Homo sapiens: one gene and its partner. The protein of the gene in region 1 interacts with the protein of each later gene in a biochemical or structural test. Each region holds a gene or a part of one and is shown on either strand. Other genes may lie near its edges. The genes, in order: ARR3 and RHO.

Evidence for each region.
Region 2: the proteins of ARR3 (region 1) and RHO form a complex in vitro, tested with the Homo sapiens proteins (one study listed by BioGRID).

Annotation. Positions count from the first base shown.
Region 1 is NC_000023.11:70,262,748-70,272,701, reverse strand, and holds the start of ARR3 (arrestin-C), read right to left. Parts: upstream 4,369-9,954; 5' UTR 4,330-4,368; intron 3,347-4,329; 5' UTR 3,317-3,346; coding exon 3,309-3,316; intron 3,041-3,308; coding exon 3,010-3,040; intron 2,860-3,009; coding exon 2,799-2,859; intron 2,627-2,798; coding exon of another isoform or gene 2,603-2,626; coding exon 2,558-2,602; intron 1-2,557. UniProt on the Homo sapiens protein: May play a role in an as yet undefined retina-specific signal transduction. Could bind to photoactivated-phosphorylated red/green opsins.
Region 2 is NC_000003.12:129,521,665-129,532,021, forward strand, and holds the start of RHO (rhodopsin), read left to right. Parts: upstream 1-6,974; 5' UTR 6,975-7,069; coding exon 7,070-7,430; intron 7,431-9,211; coding exon 9,212-9,380; intron 9,381-10,357. UniProt on the Homo sapiens protein: Photoreceptor required for image-forming vision at low light intensity. Required for photoreceptor cell viability after birth.

The DNA of each region.
Region 1 (9,954 bases):
GATTTAATTGGTATAAGCATTTTAGAGGGCAATTTGACAATAGGTATAGAAAGCTTTAAAAATGTGTGAATGCCTTTTGGCCATTAATTCCTCTTCTAGGCACTTAGAAAGAAATAATTGAACAAGTATGAAAAGGATGTGCATTACAGGGCGTTGTGGTATCCCCATATGATATAGTACTAGGCAACTTAAAAAGTTATAGATTTGTGTATATTGACATAGGTTTAAAAAATGTAAAATATTATTTTTAGTATAGCATTTTTAGTGAAAATATAGATATGTTTGCACAGAAAATATGAATAAATAAGATCAAAAGATTAGTGATTAAAGATGGTAAGGTTACACAGTCTCTCCTTCATCTATGTTTTCTAATTTTTCTACAATGGAGACAAACCTAATAATTTTCAAAGATACAGCAAATAGATTCACCTTGGTTCTCAATTATGGCCAATTATAGTGAGAGAAAGGAGAGAGAAAGAAAGGAAAATAAGGCACAAAGGAAAGGAAAAAGACAGAAAGTAAAAAGGAGAGGAAAAGAGGTGGCTGGTAGGAGGCAGGGTGAGAGAAGAAATGAAAAAGATGAGGAATGAGACAGAAAAAAAGGTCAGGATGGGCGAGGCAGAAGGGGATCTAGTAGCACCTGAGGTAAGGACGTTAATCAGATGACTTGTTCTTGGAATCGCTTTCTGTTCCTGTGTTGGGAAGGCAGCAGACTAAGACATCAACTGCATCACGCAACTCCTACCCCCAACTGAAGCTCTAATTGGCTCTCTAGCAGTTTAGAATCGTCCTTTTTTTTGCATGCTAGGAAATAGCTTGTTTTTATTTTCTTTTAAAGTCAGTATCTATTTTAAAGTTATTAATGTATAGTTGTGTTTATTCTACAAAATATATGTTAATTGTCTGAACATCAGAAAATACAAACAAAAAGACAAATCAAAGCTCCACCATAATATATCATGTTCCACAGATAACTACTGTTAATACCTGTTATGTGTGCTTCTCAACTTTGTCTGTTGCTATAATTGAACACAAGGCCACCTTAGGTATTTTTTACTTTTCTCTCATTGCCTTTTTGAAGTTAAACTTTGTATTTTGAGATCATTGTAGAGTCACATGCAGTTGTAAGAAATAATACAGAGAGAGATTCCAGATAGATTTTTGTTAAACAACAATTCGTTCACACCACCACATATACTGCCCTATCACTGGCCTTTATCACTCCACAGTATAGGGTAAGCATATTTTACATCCACAAATGTACCTTGATAGAAAAACACATTAGAAAATATGATGCAAACAAGACAATCTTCACAGAGGTAACAAACCATATTGAAAAACTAAGAATAAACAAGAAATATGCACAACTTAAATGAAAAGTAATATAAAACTCTACTAAGGGGACATAAAAGAAGATTAGAATAAAAGGAAAAATGCATCTCTTCCTGGAACAACATATATTTTTAACTAAAGATTTCTTTCCATAGCTTGTGAAGATTTTGTAGAAATGTGAAAAAATGATTTAGGTTTTAGAAATATAGAATACTTGGGAACCTTAAATAAGTTGGTTAATTTATGAGTCTATCCCAAAGTTCCTCTGATACTTAAAACCGATTTGATTGCTTATTTACACTGCTTAATCTGAGAGATTTAGGCTACTTTATTCTCCAATATCTAACAGTTACATCTGAACTAGTATTCATCAACCCATTCAGAGCCTTTTTCAAATCAAACCCAATTTTCAGTCTAGTTGGATCACAGTGGGGTTAATCCATAGTGAGAATTAAAAGGAAAAAAAGCAGCAAAAAAAAAAAATCAGCATAATCTTGATCTGTAATACTGCTGCCAGAGTAATGTTTCTTAGTGTTACTTCCTATGGTTGTTGTTTTGTTTCTTTGTTTGGGATTTTTTTTTCTTGAATAAAAGGTCAGCCAGTTTCCCTACACAAAAAAAGGAGATGGAAAGACGTATACCAGAGGTTACAAAATGACAGCCTGAAAGTCACATCTAGCCAACAGAAAAAAAAAAAAAGTTTATAATCTATCCAGGCTTCTAAAGTCTTTTAGTGAGTTGCTGACATTTGAAAATCAGGAAATTTGCCTTAAAATATGGATTTCTGACTTACTGGATCATTCTATAGGCAGTCTAAGATCCAGATCAATAGCCAAGCAGGGGCACCACCAGTAATAATAGAGAAAATCTGAAATTCTGAAAGAAGCTATTTTAATTTCAGCACAAGTGTAAGTTTTGTGTAATTTTGAAAAATAAAATTTAATTTATGCTTTAGATATTTACTTTGAATATTATTTGGGTAAGGGGGCACCATAATCTTTTCACACTTTGGGCCTCTAAAAGTCTTATTTTGAGCTTCGTTTACAGCTCCTCATTAACAATTAGAAAATTTGGCCACACTGGGCTGGAATTCCCAGTTGTCAGCCTCCACCAGAGAAGGCATTCGCAGTTCCTGCCACTTTCTGGTTTTGTTGTACTCTGGTGCAATCCACTCATCGGGTTACCTGTCTGAAACATACAAAGACCAACAAGGATTTCCACTTACACTTTCGACATTTTAAGTACTCAGGATCAACCAGGACAACACCGTCTGTGGAGAGAAGGACAGACAGCACTTTGGTCAGGAAAAACTCTCAGACTATGAAACAGAGGATGATCCCTGAAATGGTTCTTCCTATTCTTCCCTTTAATTTGCCTCCTTTTCTGCACGGTCTTTCCTGGACTTTCTTTTACTCCCTAGTTTCCATTCCTCTTTCCCCAGGCTTCCCTTTTTTGGACTCACTGACCAATGGGTTCCACCGTGTCCACATGGTCCACGAAGTCCCGTTTCCCCAGGTAGATGGAGAGCTGTTGTGGAACAACTTCCCATGTTATTCTCACAATCATTTTTGAATGGATTCCCCTGAAACCCCCAACCCAGACCCCTGAGACCTTGAAGGATGTACCCACCTATCCCTTTTGCCCTCTCATTTGCCCAGCTGGGCCAGGTTCTCTCACCTTCCCATTGGAGCTGGTCTTCTTAAACACCCTATGAGGAGAAAACCAGAAAGAGGATGGAGAGGGGGATTGGAAGTGCAGGGAAGAGGAAATAAGGGAATTGGGGAGAAAAAGAAATATTCTTAGGATTAGGAGAAGAGGCTCCAGGAGCATAGGATGGGGCAAAGGTAGGGATAATTGGGGTAGAATCCAAGGACACAAGTTAGGGAGAAATTGGAAATCCCCCTACCCCAAAGGGAAATACTTGGATTGGGGTAGGGAGCAATTCACAGGTTCAGAGGATTAGAAGGAATTCTTACTTGGACATGTTGGCTATATAGTTGATGTTGAGCCTTTTCTGGGAAAAGGGAAAGAAGAAAGGCTCAATCATTTCATTTCTATTCTTCTCACCCCACTCCAGCATACCATCCATATACACCTAGTGTGATGTAACCTTTCCTCCTTAGACAGACACCTCACCCACATCAAGTACCTCCTATTCTCCCTTCTGCCAAGGGTACTTCTTCAGCCATATTCTTGCCCATCTTGGGCAAGAGGGGAAAAAAACCTTCCTATTTTGTACAAATCATTGACTAACCATACTATGTATTCTCCAGAAAGGGCCAAACTTCCTAGAATGGCTGGGGAACTCTTGAGAACCCTGAGAGAGAAGGAACTTCTCTGGAAAGAGGCTGGACAGAGGCTTCCATCCAGAAAAGTGTGAGAAAAATGTGTTTCTTGGTCTGTATGAGGCTAGACATCCCCTGGCACACACTAGGTGCCAAGACATGTTTGTTGGATACATGAATGAATGAATGAATGAATGAATGAATGGACAAATCAATGGATTCTGTCTCCTTCTGCTCCTGCAATGGATCCTGAACCTGAGTTCACCTCATGATGCCCTTGACTCTCAACAAAGAAGGGAGAAAAGTGTGAGAGAGAAGGGGTTGGTGCCTTCATGCTCTCAGTTTTTGGTGACAGAAGTCTCTATGGAGGTTGAAAGTCCTCCTTGAACCAACTCATCCCTCTCATTGCCTTTCCTAGATTTTCCCATCCTTATCCCCATCCAGGTCCCCAGGGGCTAGGCCTTTGGATGGGAATCCTTAGAGAGAGGGAGATGTCTCTCTAGTGCTTTCCTTTGATGCTTACTGAGCCTGGCCCAGGGGGTGAGCTTAGGGGAGCTTCCAGAGGTCTTTGGAGGGTCTCTAGGCCTGAATGTCTATAGGCTATGTCAGGAAGGGTGTCCCTCAACTGCTGCCTGATATATTAAGAGGGATGCTAAGAGCAAGGGATATAGGGCTTAGTATGGGCTAGAAGTAGAGGGCTTTGGAATATTACCTGGGGAGAGAGATGAAGTTCACATCAGTCTCCAGCTCTGGTTGCTATGCCTGCCTCCCCAGCCTCTTATACCCACAGTCCTCTGAGTGTTTTGATTGGTGGGGGTCATGGGAAAAGAATAGGGTTCTTGGTGGGGGGGCATAAAACACTGCTATAAATAGTTCAGGTGCCAAGAGTTTGGAAAGCAGATTAGTGCCTAAAAGATTAGTGGCTAAAAGATTAGCAGGCTATTGCTGCTGGGACAGAGTGGGGGTAGGAGGTTGATTCTGATGATGTTAAAGGCAAGGGAGTTTGAGAAGGGTAACTTCAGGATTTTGGCCTTGTGAGGCCTTGAACCTGAGAACTGGGATCAAAGTGGAGTTGGAGGTCTTAAAGGTGAAGCATGGTGGGGGATTGAAATGGGAGGGCTCAAAGTATAGGCCTTTGTGTTTTTGAAAGGAATACCTCGTGTCCCACTCCAATCTCTATATCAGCGGCTCCAGGCCACACAAAAGCCAAGGGTATGGGAAAGAGTACCTCGTCCCCAGCCCCCCACCACTTTGGGACATTGGACTTTTGAAGCTGATGTTTAGAAACCCTGATTATCCCAGCTTATGTGCACAGCAGGAGTCAATCTCCTGTAGGTAGTGGGGGCAGGAGTGGTGGAGGGGGATCTGAGTGCATTGAGCTGTGTATGCACATGTCTGTGAGCCTTGAACTTCTCTTCTCATTGGAGAGGAAGGTAATATAAGATTCCCAGCCCAGGGACAGGTTCTTCTGGCAGGACATGCATGTGGAGGGAATAGGCGGTTGACATCTGTGTCACCCCTACCGAGGGTAAACCTCCTCACCCCAGCTCTTGACTCTGTCCAATCCCTGAAACTAACTAAGTCCATGCTCTAAGCAGCTTCTCTTGCCTCGTATGACCGCTCATGGAATTAGAGATATTTCTGTCTCTTCAGCTGCCAGGACCCCCACAACAGCAACAACAAAGTAATCTTCCTTTCTTGACTGTCCTTCCCACAGGGCCTAGGCTCAGGCTTCACGGGCATAGAAAATGTAGAGACAGAATCTATAAGCTCTGGGGTTTCAGGACTCTGACCTCCTTCACCTCCCCTTACAGCAGTCTGGACATTAGTAGTTATCTATAGACACAGCCCTCAACCCCAACCCCCACAATGGGGTGTCCATTCCTCAGAGGATGGCTATGGCTATGGCTCAGAGGGCTGGGCAGGGCCTTCCCTAACTCCTGCCCCTCACTGAGGGCCCTGGACAGCTGTCCCATATTCTCTTTGCACAGTTCACAGTGTCAGCCCCTGCCATTCCTAGCCAATATGCATCTCAGGGCCTGGTTGTTTAGTTACTATAACTCTCTCCTTCTCAGGGGCTTTCAGATAGTGCAAGAAGCCCAGATTCTGCAGGTACCACAGTGGGATAGGAACTGATGCTGGACATACAGGAAAGATTTGTATACATGCCAAGGTTGGTGTCTGCGAGGAAGGCGAAAAGTCAGAATGAATCTACTTTTCATGCCAGACATGGCAATATTCAATGGCAGGAAAGGAAGGCCTCTCTTCTTGTATGCTTATTTTCATCATTCAGGAAACCTTTCCCAGATCTCTAGAATGACTAGTGGTCAGCCTGTTTTTGTCTTTAGACCCACACTCGAGGCTCCTACCTCCCTTTTAGGTACTCAATCCCGCTTATCTTCTCTTTCTACTCAGATCCATGGGCCTCTCGGTAGGAAAAGAGTAGATCTGCTAGGTCTTTAATTCATTATTATGATGGAATGTAAATCATTACTCTTTTCCAGAAGTTTGTGCATTTCTTGACTGAGGTAAAATTCACAAATCTTAACTGCAGCTCAATGAATTTTTACCTACTGTGGCAAGCTGAATTATGCCCCCAAAGATGTCAGGTCTTAATCCTGGGAACCGATGAACATTACCTTATATGAAAAAGAGACTTTGCAGATGTGAATAAATTAAGGATGTTGAAATAGGGAGATCATTCTGGATTATCCAGGTGGGCCCTAATGTAATCACCAGTCTCTTTATGAGAGAGGGGCAGAGAGAGTTTTGACTCTGAGATAGGAGGAAATATGAGGCCTGAAGCAAGATGTTAGGCTGCTGGCTTTGAAGACGGAGGAAGGGGCCATGAGCTAAGGAATGCAAGGAATACAGCTCTAGAAACTGGAAAAGACAAAGAAATCGATTCTCCCCTAAAGTCTCTCATGGCTGCAAGATGGCTGTTCCTGCTCAGGCATGGCCCTGCTGAAACCTTGATTTTGGTCCATTGAAACTGATTTTGGACTTCTGACCTCCAGAACTGTAAGAGAAGAACTGTGCATTGTTTTAAGTCACCAAGTCTGTGGTAATTTATTACAGCATCCATAGGAAACTAATACACCTGCGTAAACGCGCATATAACGACCACCCAGGTTAAGATATAGAACATTTCCATCCCCCCAGAAAATTTCTTTGTGCCTCTTTCCAGTTAGTAGCTTCCCAAAGAGAACTGTCACCAGTTTTGCTTTGACCTGGAATACTTGCATTTTACAAGGATGCAACAGTAAGTAGGCAAAGGAATGCATAGCTAATGGAGTTTCTGGCCCCTATAATACATGGGTGGAAGAAATATTTTTAGGTCCTTACCCACCCTCATTCTGTACACCCGGATGATATCCCCAACCAGACCTTCCAGTTAGAAAATGATGATCAGATGTCTGCATGAGGAAGGAGTGGGTTATTCAGTAAAAGGTTGTAGCAGACAGAATTGCTTACCAACTCAATAGTCATCTCCCTCTTCCTCCTTGTGGAAAGAATCCCCATTTTTAAGGTAATTCATCCTCCTCCGCATGAGTCTGTGCTCCTCTATGCCAGTCATGGTCGTTTTATCCCCCTTGCCAGTGATCAGCCTAGTTATAGGCATGGTGAAATTCAGGCCACTGTGATGTGAGAGGAGGTATGCTGGAGAGATTCTGGGAAAGTTTTCTTGAATGATAAAAATAAGCATACAGGAAGAGGCCTTCCTCTTTTACCATTGAATATTGCCATGTCTGGAAACAATGCCTGACCGGCAATAGCCACCTTGTGACCATGAAAGTTGCTAAATAACATGCTGAGGTTTGCAAATCAGAAAGATGGAAAGAATCAGGATTTTTTAATGACATTGTTGAACTGCTGAATTAATCAGCTCCAAAGCCACCCACTACTGAACTTATATGCAAGATAATATATTTCCTTTTTTAAAAACAGTCATCTAAGTTGGGATTTTCTGTTATTGCAACTGAAAACATAGCAAAAGATTCAAGTGGGATGTGGATGAGGCATTAGCTCAGTGGGGGAGGACGGAACGGAGATAGATGGATTAAATCGCAGAAACAGATTTCCTGTGCTGTCCTAGGTGCTGAACAAACTAGTCCTGGTCTCCACTCTAAGGTTGTTAACAGCCTTGCTGGAGATAAAGTTGGACATGTAGAAAGACAAAAAGGGCACACTACAGAGAATACATATGGACAAAGTTAACTTGTGTACAACTATGTGAAGCCAGTCACTTCCCAATGATTTTATTAGTAAGTTTAGACATCCAGGGCTTCAGATCACTACTCCTTTCCATTGAGATTGAGTGACTTTCGTGTTCCACTTACTCTCAGCAGGTAATTCCATTTGTTCACTTCATAAAGAAAATTCAGCCAATTGGAGTGGACCTCACACCTTCCAAATACACGTATACTTTAATTCTCAATAACGACAATGAGGGCACTCTGCTGGGTTCCTTACATGCATTGCTTCATTGTCTTCTCACAACAAGCTAGGTGCTAGCATCCTCATTCTACATATGAGGAAATGGAGGTTCAGAAAGACTTATCCATAGTCATAGCCGGCAGGCGATGGAGCCAGAGTTCAACCCTAGGTCTGTCTGACTCCAAGCCTGCATTTTTTCCACTATATCACTTACCTTCCCTCCCTCATTTTCTTCCCTCTCCCTCCCTTCCTACCTTTATTCCTCCTTTCTCCCCTCCCTCCCTCCTTCCCTCCTTCTCTCCCTTCCTTCGTTCCTTTCCTCCTAACTCAGATAAAGAGATTAGAAATCATGCCTCTTCCCCCTTTCCTTCTTAAAGCCCCAAGGAAACAGCAAACCTTGCAAAGAAACTGTCATCAAGACAATTACGAATATTAGATGTGAAGGGCCAGGAGGGAGAGGACTGGAACAAACTGGAGGAGTAGGGCAATGGAAGGGTGTCAGCAATAATGGTATTTGTACATCTTATTTATCTCTGTCAGGGAAAAAATAGTAAACTTTTCCTGCATACTAAATTCCAGACATCAATGAGATACCCAAGTGTGTGTGTCCTATAGCAAACAACATATATAGGGCTTAGATTATAGATGTGGGAACCATTCAGTTCAACAAATTATAATTAAGTCATTCATTCACTCAACAACTATTATTGAACATGTACTATGTGGAAGGTACTTGTTTTCTTAACTCTGAATTGGAAGGCATTTTTTGGGGGACAGCAGAGAATATAATTTGAAAGGAAATATCTAGAACATATGTTATAATAACTTTACCTGGAAGGCTATGGGAAAGACAGAGGTAAAATGAGGTACATGTTCTCAAGGAGCTCTGGTTCTGGTATGGGGGTGGGAGGATCAGGAGGAGATGGCCAAAAACACAAATGAGTATAATTCTAGGCTGCCTGTGGTATGTGCCATCTCTGTAGAAATCAAATGTGATAAGAGTGTGAGAGAAGGAGAGATGCATTTTGATTAGAGAGAGATCTGTATGCTGGAGTCTCTTGGCCATTACAATTTTTGATAACCTCTGAGTCATAGTTGAAATCATGAGAGTGGATGTTCCAAGAGAGAAGGGGAAGAGAGGGTGGGGGTAGGGGGAGAGAGATGGTGGAGAGGGAGAGAGAGGAGAGGAGAGGAGAGGAGAGAGGAGAGGAGAGGATCTTTGGGGGAAGGCTCACATGTTGGGGAAGTAGGGGAAAAAAGAGCCAGGGAAGGGGCCAGAAGGAACATCCAGAGGAAGAGGAGAACCGGAGTAAAGCAAAGTCACAGGAACCAAAGTAAAGAAGAGTTTCACAGAAGAGAGTGAGGCTGATCTGCTGCATTCCGTTCCTCTTGGCCCTGGGTGAGGACAGTAAAAGCCAGGCAGGTGTGCCGGTTGGGGAGGGTTGGGAGAGGTCTTTTCCTGAAATAGCCACTGGGCGGCAGTGGTGGCAGCAGCAGCAGCTGCAGCTGTGTCGGGACATGCAGAAACGTAGCAGAGCTAAGTCAGGAGAAATGTAGCAGAGGTAAACCAGCCTGAAGCAGTAGGAGCAGGAAGCTGGCTCAGGCTGGGGCTTCTCTAGTGTAGTGCTTCTCCTTGGGTGTACACCAAACTTCAAAACACGCTTGTCCACCTCTGCAGAGGCCAGGTTCATTCCTGGGAGCAAAGCAGTAACAAAAAACACCTTCTAAACTTGCAGCATTTTATGGTTCACAAAGTGCTCCACACCTGTTAACCAATTCAATATTCAGGAAACCCTAAAAGATTGGTATTATTATTATTCCCATTTCACTGGTGAAGAATGGAAGTTACAAAGAGGCGCCCAGGCTCACATAACTAATAAGTGGAAGAGCAAGGATTTAA
Region 2 (10,357 bases), on another chromosome or scaffold:
CAGACAGTTGTGCCAACAGAACTCCTCCGTCGAGTGTCTAATTACTTACCATCATGCATGCGCTCTCTCACTAAACATTTATTAATGTGTTAGGATTTCCATTAGCGCATGACTTCAACTGAAATCATTTGCATATGGCTGGGAAAAAGGGGAGAGGGAGAAAACAGCTCCAGCTACCCAGCAGTCAATCACAGTGACAGATCAGATGGTCCCTGGCTGGAGGCAGGGGAGGGTTCCAGCCGAGACTCCAGCATGCATCCCCTCAGCCGAAGAACACAAAAATGAGTGTGCTGTGCCGGGCTCTGCTGCCCCAGGAAGCTCAGCTCTAGAGGCCTGAGTAGGACCCCTATTCATTCAGATGCACTTTCCGTGCATCATCCAAGGCTGCCTATTACACAGGTGATGACACTGAGCCTCAGTCATGTTATTTTTCATTCAGCAAATATGCATTAAGCCAAGGCATATTTGGTCGCACCTGGGTGCAACCTTTGTGCATAAGCCCTGTGTCTGGCTGCTTTTCTCTCTCAGCCTGATCTGGGTCTGAACCAAGTCCAGTCTTTTCTCCAAGGCTGTTTCCCCATCTGCACAAAAGGGCCCCCTCCAGCTCTGACTCTGAGGTTCCAGCCTCAGTCTGCGTCTGTGAACAGCGCTGGATGATGATCCTGTTGACCCCTCAAGTGCCTGTGACAAGGAAGGCACCACAGGGACCTGGTGATGCCCATTGAACTAAGAGGACACTGAGGCCAGAGAGGAGCAGCTGCTGAAGGCTGCACGGTGGGGCAGTGATTCTGGCCTTTAGCCTGTAGTCCCAACTACTCAGGAGGCTGAGGTGGAAGGATCAATTGAGCCAAGGACAGGAATTCAAGGCTGCAGTAAGCTATGATTGCACCACTGCACTCCAGCCTGGGCAACAGAGCAACATTCATCTCTAAACAACATTTAAAAATTGTTTTAAGAAGACAAATGAGATAACTGTTGATCGTAATGGCTGTGTAAAAACTGAACATGGCTGGGTGTGGTCGCTCACACCTGTAATCTCAGCACTTTGGGAGGCCAAGGCAGGAGGATCGCTTGAGCCGGGAGTTAGAGACCAGCTCAGACAATATAGGGAGACCCCATCTGACTGGGACTGGTCCTGATCTCTCATCTCCAAGTGCTCAACATTGTGCCCATGTTCTTGGAAGGAGGAAGTAAGGGAGAGGTAGACTGAGCAGCCTCAGGTGGACCTGACTGGAGACGCACCTCAGGCAGCTGGAGGTCCCCGGGCCTTGGTTTCCCATCTGTCCCCAGCAAGGCTGTGAAGCTAGGAGCCCCTGGTGGCTGTCACACAGGTGGGCAGAGGCCCCTCCTCCAAGGTCGCTCTGTGTCTCTTCCCTGGCTTGGAGTCTGTGTGCCCACAGCAGAGGCCACCACTGGGCAGGGTGCTTACCCCGAGCCTCCCTGATTCTCCCCCTGCAGATCCAGAACACTGGCCTGGTATGGAGACCTCGTCATGGCCCTCCCTGCTTGCCACCCGCAGTAGCTGCCCATGCAATTCAGCCAACACCCAGACCCCTAGGCCTGCCCTCTATCCCCAGCACGCCACCCTGGGGGGCCCAGCACCTCCAGGCCCAGCTGGCCCTCCCTACCTGCCCTGCTTGGGAGACTCTTTTGACCCTCCTGGTCCACCTTTTGCTCCTCTGGGCTCCCACAGCACTGGGACTGGGAGAAAATGCTCATCTCTCATGTTTAGTTTCCGATCAGTACCCCCTGAGACTGGGAGCCCCTTGAAAGCAGGAACCATGTGGGATCCACCTCAGCGTCCCCAGGGCCTGGCGCATATAAGGAGTTTGGCAAATGCTAGGGTAGAAAAGAGAAAGAGGAAGGAGGGAATGAGAGCTGGTCTTTCTCCCTCCCTTATTCCCCCTTGATGCTCTCAGTACCGCTGAAGGCCTCATGTAGCCTTGGTGACGCAGCCTGGTGGGGCTGAGCCATGTGGGGGACCAGGAGAAAGAAAGCCAAGGAAGAGGAGGAGGAGGAGGAGAAGGAGGAGAAGGATGCTGACCTAGCAGCTCCTCTCACAGCAGCTCCTCTCTTGCAGAGGCTGAAGAGCGATTTGTGCCCTGCAAGCTAAGCCCCTAATCCACCGAGGCAAAGGCAAAGCCCCTAGCCGGGCTCCCGAGGGCTGGGACTCGGGTGCCCCAAGATGGCTGCATCCAGCCATCTTGGCTTAGAAAGCCCCCCACATGCCAGCTTGGCCAACACCCACACCATGGGTTTCTCTGGACTGCCCGACACAAGGTGTGGGTGCTGGCCAGGCCTGTGTTCAAATCCCAGCTCTGCAGAGGAACTTTGACCCTGCATACCCCAGATTCCTCAGTGGTCAGTGGGGAGTTAGACCCTCTTCATAGGGGGCAGGAGGAGTTGTTCATTCATTCAACAAATGTTTATTGAACACCTCCTATGGGTTGTGAGCTCAGAGGCAGCGATGAACAGGCCAGGCTGGTCCTGCATTCTAGAAATAGATGGGAAGTCAGTCAATAAGTAGACAAATGAGGCCAGGTGTGGTGGCATGCCTGTAGACCCAGTTACTCGGGATGCTGAGGTAGGAGGATCACTTGAGCCTAGGACAGGAATTCAAGGCTGCAGTAAGCTATGATTGCGCCACTGCACTCCAGCCTGGGCAACAGAGCAAGACTCATCTCTAAAAAACATTTAAAAATTGTTTTAAGAAGACAAATGAGATAGTCGCTGATGGTAATGACTGTGTAAAAACTGAACATGGCTGGGTGTGGTTGCTCACACCTATAATCTCAGCACTTTGGGAGGCTGAGATTACAGCCTCCCAAGTGGCTCCCAAGGCAGGAGGATCACTTGAGCCTGGGAGTTAGAGAACAGCTTGGACAATATAGGGAGAGCCCAACTCTACAAAAATGAAAATAAATTAGCCAGGCATGGTGGCACACACCAATGGTCCCAGCTACTCAGGGGTTGAGGTGGTGGACCGCTTGAGCCCAGGAGGTTGAGGCTGCAGTGAGCCATGATCATGCCGCTGCACTCCAACCTGAGTCACAGAGTGATACCCTGTCTCAAAAAACAATAGGCCAGGTGTGGTGGCTCACGCCTGTAACCCCAGCACTTTGGGAGGCCGAGGCGGATGGATCACTTGAGATCAGGAGTTAGAGACCAGCCTGGCTAACATGGCAAAATCCTGTCTGTACTAAAAATATAAAAATTAGCCAGGCATGGCAGTACATGCCTGTAGTCCTGGTTACTTGGGAGGCTAAGGCAGGAGAATCGCTTGAACCCAGGAAGAGGAGGTTGCAGTGAGCCAAGATCACACCACTGCACTCCAGCTTGGGTGACAGAGTGAGACCCTGTCTCAAAACAGCTAAACCTGGTGGGGGTGCCTGGTGTGTAGGATGGTCAGGGGTGGTCTCTCCAAGGACATGAGTGTGAGCGGAGACCTGAAGGAGACTCAGGAAGAGATTAATACTGTCAGCAACAAATATATTGATCACTTACAAGCACTCCCAATAATCCTATTAGGTAGGCACTATTATCATTCCCATTTTACAGAGTGGAGAACCGAAGCACACTCTCGGGAGGGCGGGGTAGCTGGCTGCACCCAGGCTGTGTAGCCTCAGTCCAGATGTAAGGGTGGGTGGAAAAGAGCCTTGCCCAATGAGGGAGAACAGTGAAACCAAGGCCATAGGGTCTAAAGATTCACGAACCAGGCTCTCATGGAGAAAGCAGGTGAGGTTTACTGTATAGATGGGTGTGCCCCTACCCCACACTGAGGCTTCCTCGTCTGAGCAAACTGAGGCCCAGAGAGGGGAAGGAAGCAGGACTACCATGGTGACTCAAAGACCAGCTAGAATCCAGCCTCCTCTCCTCGAGGCTTCCACTGCCCCACGCCAGGCCTGTGTGACTCAGTCTAGGGCCTTTCCATTACCCCAGCTAAACCTTTCTTTAGTCATTTATACCATGGTGTGAATGGCTGGCTGGTCTTTCCTGAGAGCTATCTTTGATGAGGGGAGGGAGGCATAGCCAGGTTTGGGAAGCTGATACCCCAGGAAGCCCAGTTGACTGTGTGGGTTATAGCCCAGGCTGTCACTGATTTGTAACGGGACCTGAGCAACTCTGCAGAGCTAGGCCTCAGTCTTTTCATCTGCAAAATGGATATAGCAGAGATGGTCAGAGTAGGTGACTTCGAATGACCCTTCCAGCTCACTATGAGTCTGTTTTCCTGAACAAAGAGCATTTTTTGTTTAAAAAAAAATTTCTTGGGCCGGACACGGTGGTTCACTCCTATAATCCTGGCACTTTGGGAGGCCGAGGAGGGTGGATCGCTTGAGCCAGGAGTTCAGGACCAGCCTGGGCAACATAGCGAGACTCCACCCCTACAAAAAATACAAAAACTAGTGGTGTGCACTTGTGGTCCCAGCTACTCAGGAGGCTGAGGTGAGAGGATCGCTTGAGCCCAGGAGGCAGAGGCTACAGTGAGCTATGATTGTGGCACTGCACTCCAGCCTGGGCGACAGAGACCTTGTCTCAAAACTTTTTTTTTCTTCGTCAAGCTTTACAGAATAAAGAGCACTGTCACCTCAGTGATGGCTGTTAGTTCCCCATCACCAGGGCTCCATGAGGTTGCAATTGTGAAACTCACAAAGGAGGAACCTGAGACAGAGAGGGGAAGTACTGAGATCATCTAGGTCCATTCCCCCACTCACTCGTTCATTCAACAAATATTCAGGAGCACCTTCTAGGTGCCAGGCCCTGGAGACACATCAGTGAACAAAACAGACATCATCCCACCTCTTTCCACTACAGGCCAAGCACCATGCTGGTCTCTGGGAACCCTGTTGTGAGCAAGACAGACCCAGGCTTACCCTTGTGGACTCATGTTACAGGCAGGGAGACGGGCACAAAACACAAATAAAAAGCTTCCATGCTGTCAGAAGCACTATGCAAAAAGCAAGATGCTGAGGTACTGCTAAGCTGTGTGGGATGGGGGCTCAGCCCGGCCAGGGAGGGGCCAGTTGTGGGTCAGTCTTGACCCAAGGCATCCAGGACACCCTCCTTCTGGCCATGAGGGTCCACGTCAGAATCAAACCCTCACCTTAACCTCATTAGCGTTGGGCATAATCACCAGGCCAAGCGCCTTAAACTACGAGAGGCCCCATCCCACCCGCCCTGCCTTAGCCCTGCCACGTGTGCCAAACGCTGTTAGACCCAACACCACCCAGGCCAGGTAGGGGGCTGGAGCCCAGGTGGGCTGCAGGGAAGGGGGCACTCTTCTGAGCAGACAGATCTGGGAATCCTGGGTGGGAAGAGAGACAGTGAGAGAGAGATTAAGGGATATTTCCCAGGCATCAGGGCTTTGCACTCTCAGGGGTCCTTCCGCCTGGATGTCCTTCCCCTGAAGCTTCCTCCTGTTGTTCCGTTCTCAGCTCAAGCTCCAGCTTCTCAGAGAAGCCTCCTGTGTTGGGAGTGGCTGCGACTGAACTGTCCCTACTGTTATTCGCTCTTCTATTTGTTTGTGGTCCCTGTGCCCCCTCACCCCACAAAAACACTGGCTTCTTGTGAGCAGGAGCTTGCTCTTTCGTGTACCCTGTGTGTCCCCAAGGACCAAGCACCTTGTCTGGGCCACAGTAGGTGCTCAATACACATGTTGGCTGGACAGTGGTCACTGAGCGGCCGCACGTCGGGCACTCTCAGCACTTGCACAGGCCGCCCCAGACACCCCACTTCATTCCTGGGAGGTGTCATCATGTTGCTTGGACGACGGGGAGAGGGGGACCTGCCAGTGTTGGCCTCCATTTTCCCCCAGTCATCTGCCCCCAAGGCTCTGACTACTTTCTTTCTCACGGTACATCCTGCTATTCTGGAATCGGCCCTCGTGGGGCCACCTGGTACATGGCATTTGAGGCCCTCGTGGCTGATTAGGCCTCCCCCAACAGTGCCCTGTCTGCTGCCTCCAGGGCCAGCCTCCCCTTCAGACTGGAGTCCCCTGAAGGGTTCTGCCCCTCCCCTGCTCTGGTAGCCCCCTCCATCCTCCCTCCCTCCACTCCATCTTTGGGGGCATTTGAGTCACCTTTCTACACCAGTGATCTGCCCAAGCCACTGCTCACTTTCCTCTGGATAAAGCCAGGTTCCCCGGCCTAGCGTTCAAGACCCATTACAACTGCCCCCAGCCCAGATCTTCCCCACCTAGCCACCTGGCAAACTGCTCCTTCTCTCAAAGGCCCAAACATGGCCTCCCAGACTGCAACCCCCAGGCAGTCAGGCCCTGTCTCCACAACCTCACAGCCACCCTGGACGGAATCTGCTTCTTCCCACATTTGAGTCCTCCTCAGCCCCTGAGCTCCTCTGGGCAGGGCTGTTTCTTTCCATCTTTGTATTCCCAGGGGCCTGCAAATAAATGTTTAATGAACGAACAAGAGAGTGAATTCCAATTCCATGCAACAAGGATTGGGCTCCTGGGCCCTAGGCTATGTGTCTGGCACCAGAAACGGAAGCTGCAGGTTGCAGCCCCTGCCCTCATGGAGCTCCTCCTGTCAGAGGAGTGTGGGGACTGGATGACTCCAGAGGTAACTTGTGGGGGAACGAACAGGTAAGGGGCTGTGTGACGAGATGAGAGACTGGGAGAATAAACCAGAAAGTCTCTAGCTGTCCAGAGGACATAGCACAGAGGCCCATGGTCCCTATTTCAAACCCAGGCCACCAGACTGAGCTGGGACCTTGGGACAGACAAGTCATGCAGAAGTTAGGGGACCTTCTCCTCCCTTTTCCTGGATCCTGAGTACCTCTCCTCCCTGACCTCAGGCTTCCTCCTAGTGTCACCTTGGCCCCTCTTAGAAGCCAATTAGGCCCTCAGTTTCTGCAGCGGGGATTAATATGATTATGAACACCCCCAATCTCCCAGATGCTGATTCAGCCAGGAGCTTAGGAGGGGGAGGTCACTTTATAAGGGTCTGGGGGGGTCAGAACCCAGAGTCATCCAGCTGGAGCCCTGAGTGGCTGAGCTCAGGCCTTCGCAGCATTCTTGGGTGGGAGCAGCCACGGGTCAGCCACAAGGGCCACAGCCATGAATGGCACAGAAGGCCCTAACTTCTACGTGCCCTTCTCCAATGCGACGGGTGTGGTACGCAGCCCCTTCGAGTACCCACAGTACTACCTGGCTGAGCCATGGCAGTTCTCCATGCTGGCCGCCTACATGTTTCTGCTGATCGTGCTGGGCTTCCCCATCAACTTCCTCACGCTCTACGTCACCGTCCAGCACAAGAAGCTGCGCACGCCTCTCAACTACATCCTGCTCAACCTAGCCGTGGCTGACCTCTTCATGGTCCTAGGTGGCTTCACCAGCACCCTCTACACCTCTCTGCATGGATACTTCGTCTTCGGGCCCACAGGATGCAATTTGGAGGGCTTCTTTGCCACCCTGGGCGGTATGAGCCGGGTGTGGGTGGGGTGTGCAGGAGCCCGGGAGCATGGAGGGGTCTGGGAGAGTCCCGGGCTTGGCGGTGGTGGCTGAGAGGCCTTCTCCCTTCTCCTGTCCTGTCAATGTTATCCAAAGCCCTCATATATTCAGTCAACAAACACCATTCATGGTGATAGCCGGGCTGCTGTTTGTGCAGGGCTGGCACTGAACACTGCCTTGATCTTATTTGGAGCAATATGCGCTTGTCTAATTTCACAGCAAGAAAACTGAGCTGAGGCTCAAAGAAGTCAAGCGCCCTGCTGGGGCGTCACACAGGGACGGGTGCAGAGTTGAGTTGGAAGCCCGCATCTATCTCGGGCCATGTTTGCAGCACCAAGCCTCTGTTTCCCTTGGAGCAGCTGTGCTGAGTCAGACCCAGGCTGGGCACTGAGGGAGAGCTGGGCAAGCCAGACCCCTCCTCTCTGGGGGCCCAAGCTCAGGGTGGGAAGTGGATTTTCCATTCTCCAGTCATTGGGTCTTCCCTGTGCTGGGCAATGGGCTCGGTCCCCTCTGGCATCCTCTGCCTCCCCTCTCAGCCCCTGTCCTCAGGTGCCCCTCCAGCCTCCCTGCCGCGTTCCAAGTCTCCTGGTGTTGAGAACCGCAAGCAGCCGCTCTGAAGCAGTTCCTTTTTGCTTTAGAATAATGTCTTGCATTTAACAGGAAAACAGATGGGGTGCTGCAGGGATAACAGATCCCACTTAACAGAGAGGAAAACTGAGGCAGGGAGAGGGGAAGAGACTCATTTAGGGATGTGGCCAGGCAGCAACAAGAGCCTAGGTCTCCTGGCTGTGATCCAGGAATATCTCTGCTGAGATGCAGGAGGAGACGCTAGAAGCAGCCATTGCAAAGCTGGGTGACGGGGAGAGCTTACCGCCAGCCACAAGCGTCTCTCTGCCAGCCTTGCCCTGTCTCCCCCATGTCCAGGCTGCTGCCTCGGTCCCATTCTCAGGGAATCTCTGGCCATTGTTGGGTGTTTGTTGCATTCAATAATCACAGATCACTCAGTTCTGGCCAGAAGGTGGGTGTGCCACTTACGGGTGGTTGTTCTCTGCAGGGTCAGTCCCAGTTTACAAATATTGTCCCTTTCACTGTTAGGAATGTCCCAGTTTGGTTGATTAACTATATGGCCACTCTCCCTATGGAACTTCATGGGGTGGTGAGCAGGACAGATGTCTGAATTCCATCATTTCCTTCTTCTTCCTCTGGGCAAAACATTGCACATTGCTTCATGGCTCCTAGGAGAGGCCCCCACATGTCCGGGTTATTTCATTTCCCGAGAAGGGAGAGGGAGGAAGGACTGCCAATTCTGGGTTTCCACCACCTCTGCATTCCTTCCCAACAAGGAACTCTGCCCCACATTAGGATGCATTCTTCTGCTAAACACACACACACACACACACACACACAACACACACACACACACACACACACACACACACACAAAACTCCCTACCGGGTTCCCAGTTCAATCCTGACCCCCTGATCTGATTCGTGTCCCTTATGGGCCCAGAGCGCTAAGCAAATAACTTCCCCCATTCCCTGGAATTTCTTTGCCCAGCTCTCCTCAGCGTGTGGTCCCTCTGCCCCTTCCCCCTCCTCCCAGCACCAAGCTCTCTCCTTCCCCAAGGCCTCCTCAAATCCCTCTCCCACTCCTGGTTGCCTTCCTAGCTACCCTCTCCCTGTCTAGGGGGGAGTGCACCCTCCTTAGGCAGTGGGGTCTGTGCTGACCGCCTGCTGACTGCCTTGCAGGTGAAATTGCCCTGTGGTCCTTGGTGGTCCTGGCCATCGAGCGGTACGTGGTGGTGTGTAAGCCCATGAGCAACTTCCGCTTCGGGGAGAACCATGCCATCATGGGCGTTGCCTTCACCTGGGTCATGGCGCTGGCCTGCGCCGCACCCCCACTCGCCGGCTGGTCCAGGTAATGGCACTGAGCAGAAGGGAAGAAGCTCCGGGGGCTCTTTGTAGGGTCCTCCAGTCAGGACTCAAACCCAGTAGTGTCTGGTTCCAGGCACTGACCTTGTATGTCTCCTGGCCCAAATGCCCACTCAGGGTAGGGGTGTAGGGCAGAAGAAGAAACAGACTCTAATGTTGCTACAAGGGCTGGTCCCATCTCCTGAGCCCCATGTCAAACAGAATCCAAGACATCCCAACCCTTCACCTTGGCTGTGCCCCTAATCCTCAACTAAGCTAGGCGCAAATTCCAATCCTCTTTGGTCTAGTACCCCGGGGGCAGCCCCCTCTAACCTTGGGCCTCAGCAGCAGGGGAGGCCACACCTTCCTAGTGCAGGTGGCCATATTGTGGCCCCTTGGAACTGGGTCCCACTCAGCCTCTAGGCGATTGTCTCCTAATGGGGCTGAGATGAGACACAGTGGGGACAGTGGTTTGGACAATAGGACTGGTGACTCTGGTCCCCAGAGGCCTCATGTCCCTCTGTCTCCAGAAAATTCCCACTCTCACTTCCCTTTCCTCCTCAGTCTTGCTAGGGTCCATTTCTTACCCCTTGCTGAATTTGAGCCCACCCCCTGGACTTTTTCCCCATCTTCTCCAATCTGGCCTAGTTCTATCCTCTGGAAGCAGAGCCGCTGGACGCTCTGGGTTTCCTGAGGCCCGTCCACTGTCACCAATATCAGGAACCATTGCCACGTCCTAATGACGTGCGCTGGAAGCCTCTAGTTTCCAGAAGCTGCACAAAGATCCCTTAGATACTCTGTGTGTCCATCTTTGGCCTGGAAAATACTCTCACCCTGGGGCTAGGAAGACCTCGGTTTGTACAAACTTCCTCAAATGCAGAGCCTGAGGGCTCTCCCCACCTCCTCACCAACCCTCTGCGTGGCATAGCCCTAGCCTCAGCGGGCAGTGGATGCTGGGGCTGGGCATGCAGGGAGAGGCTGGGT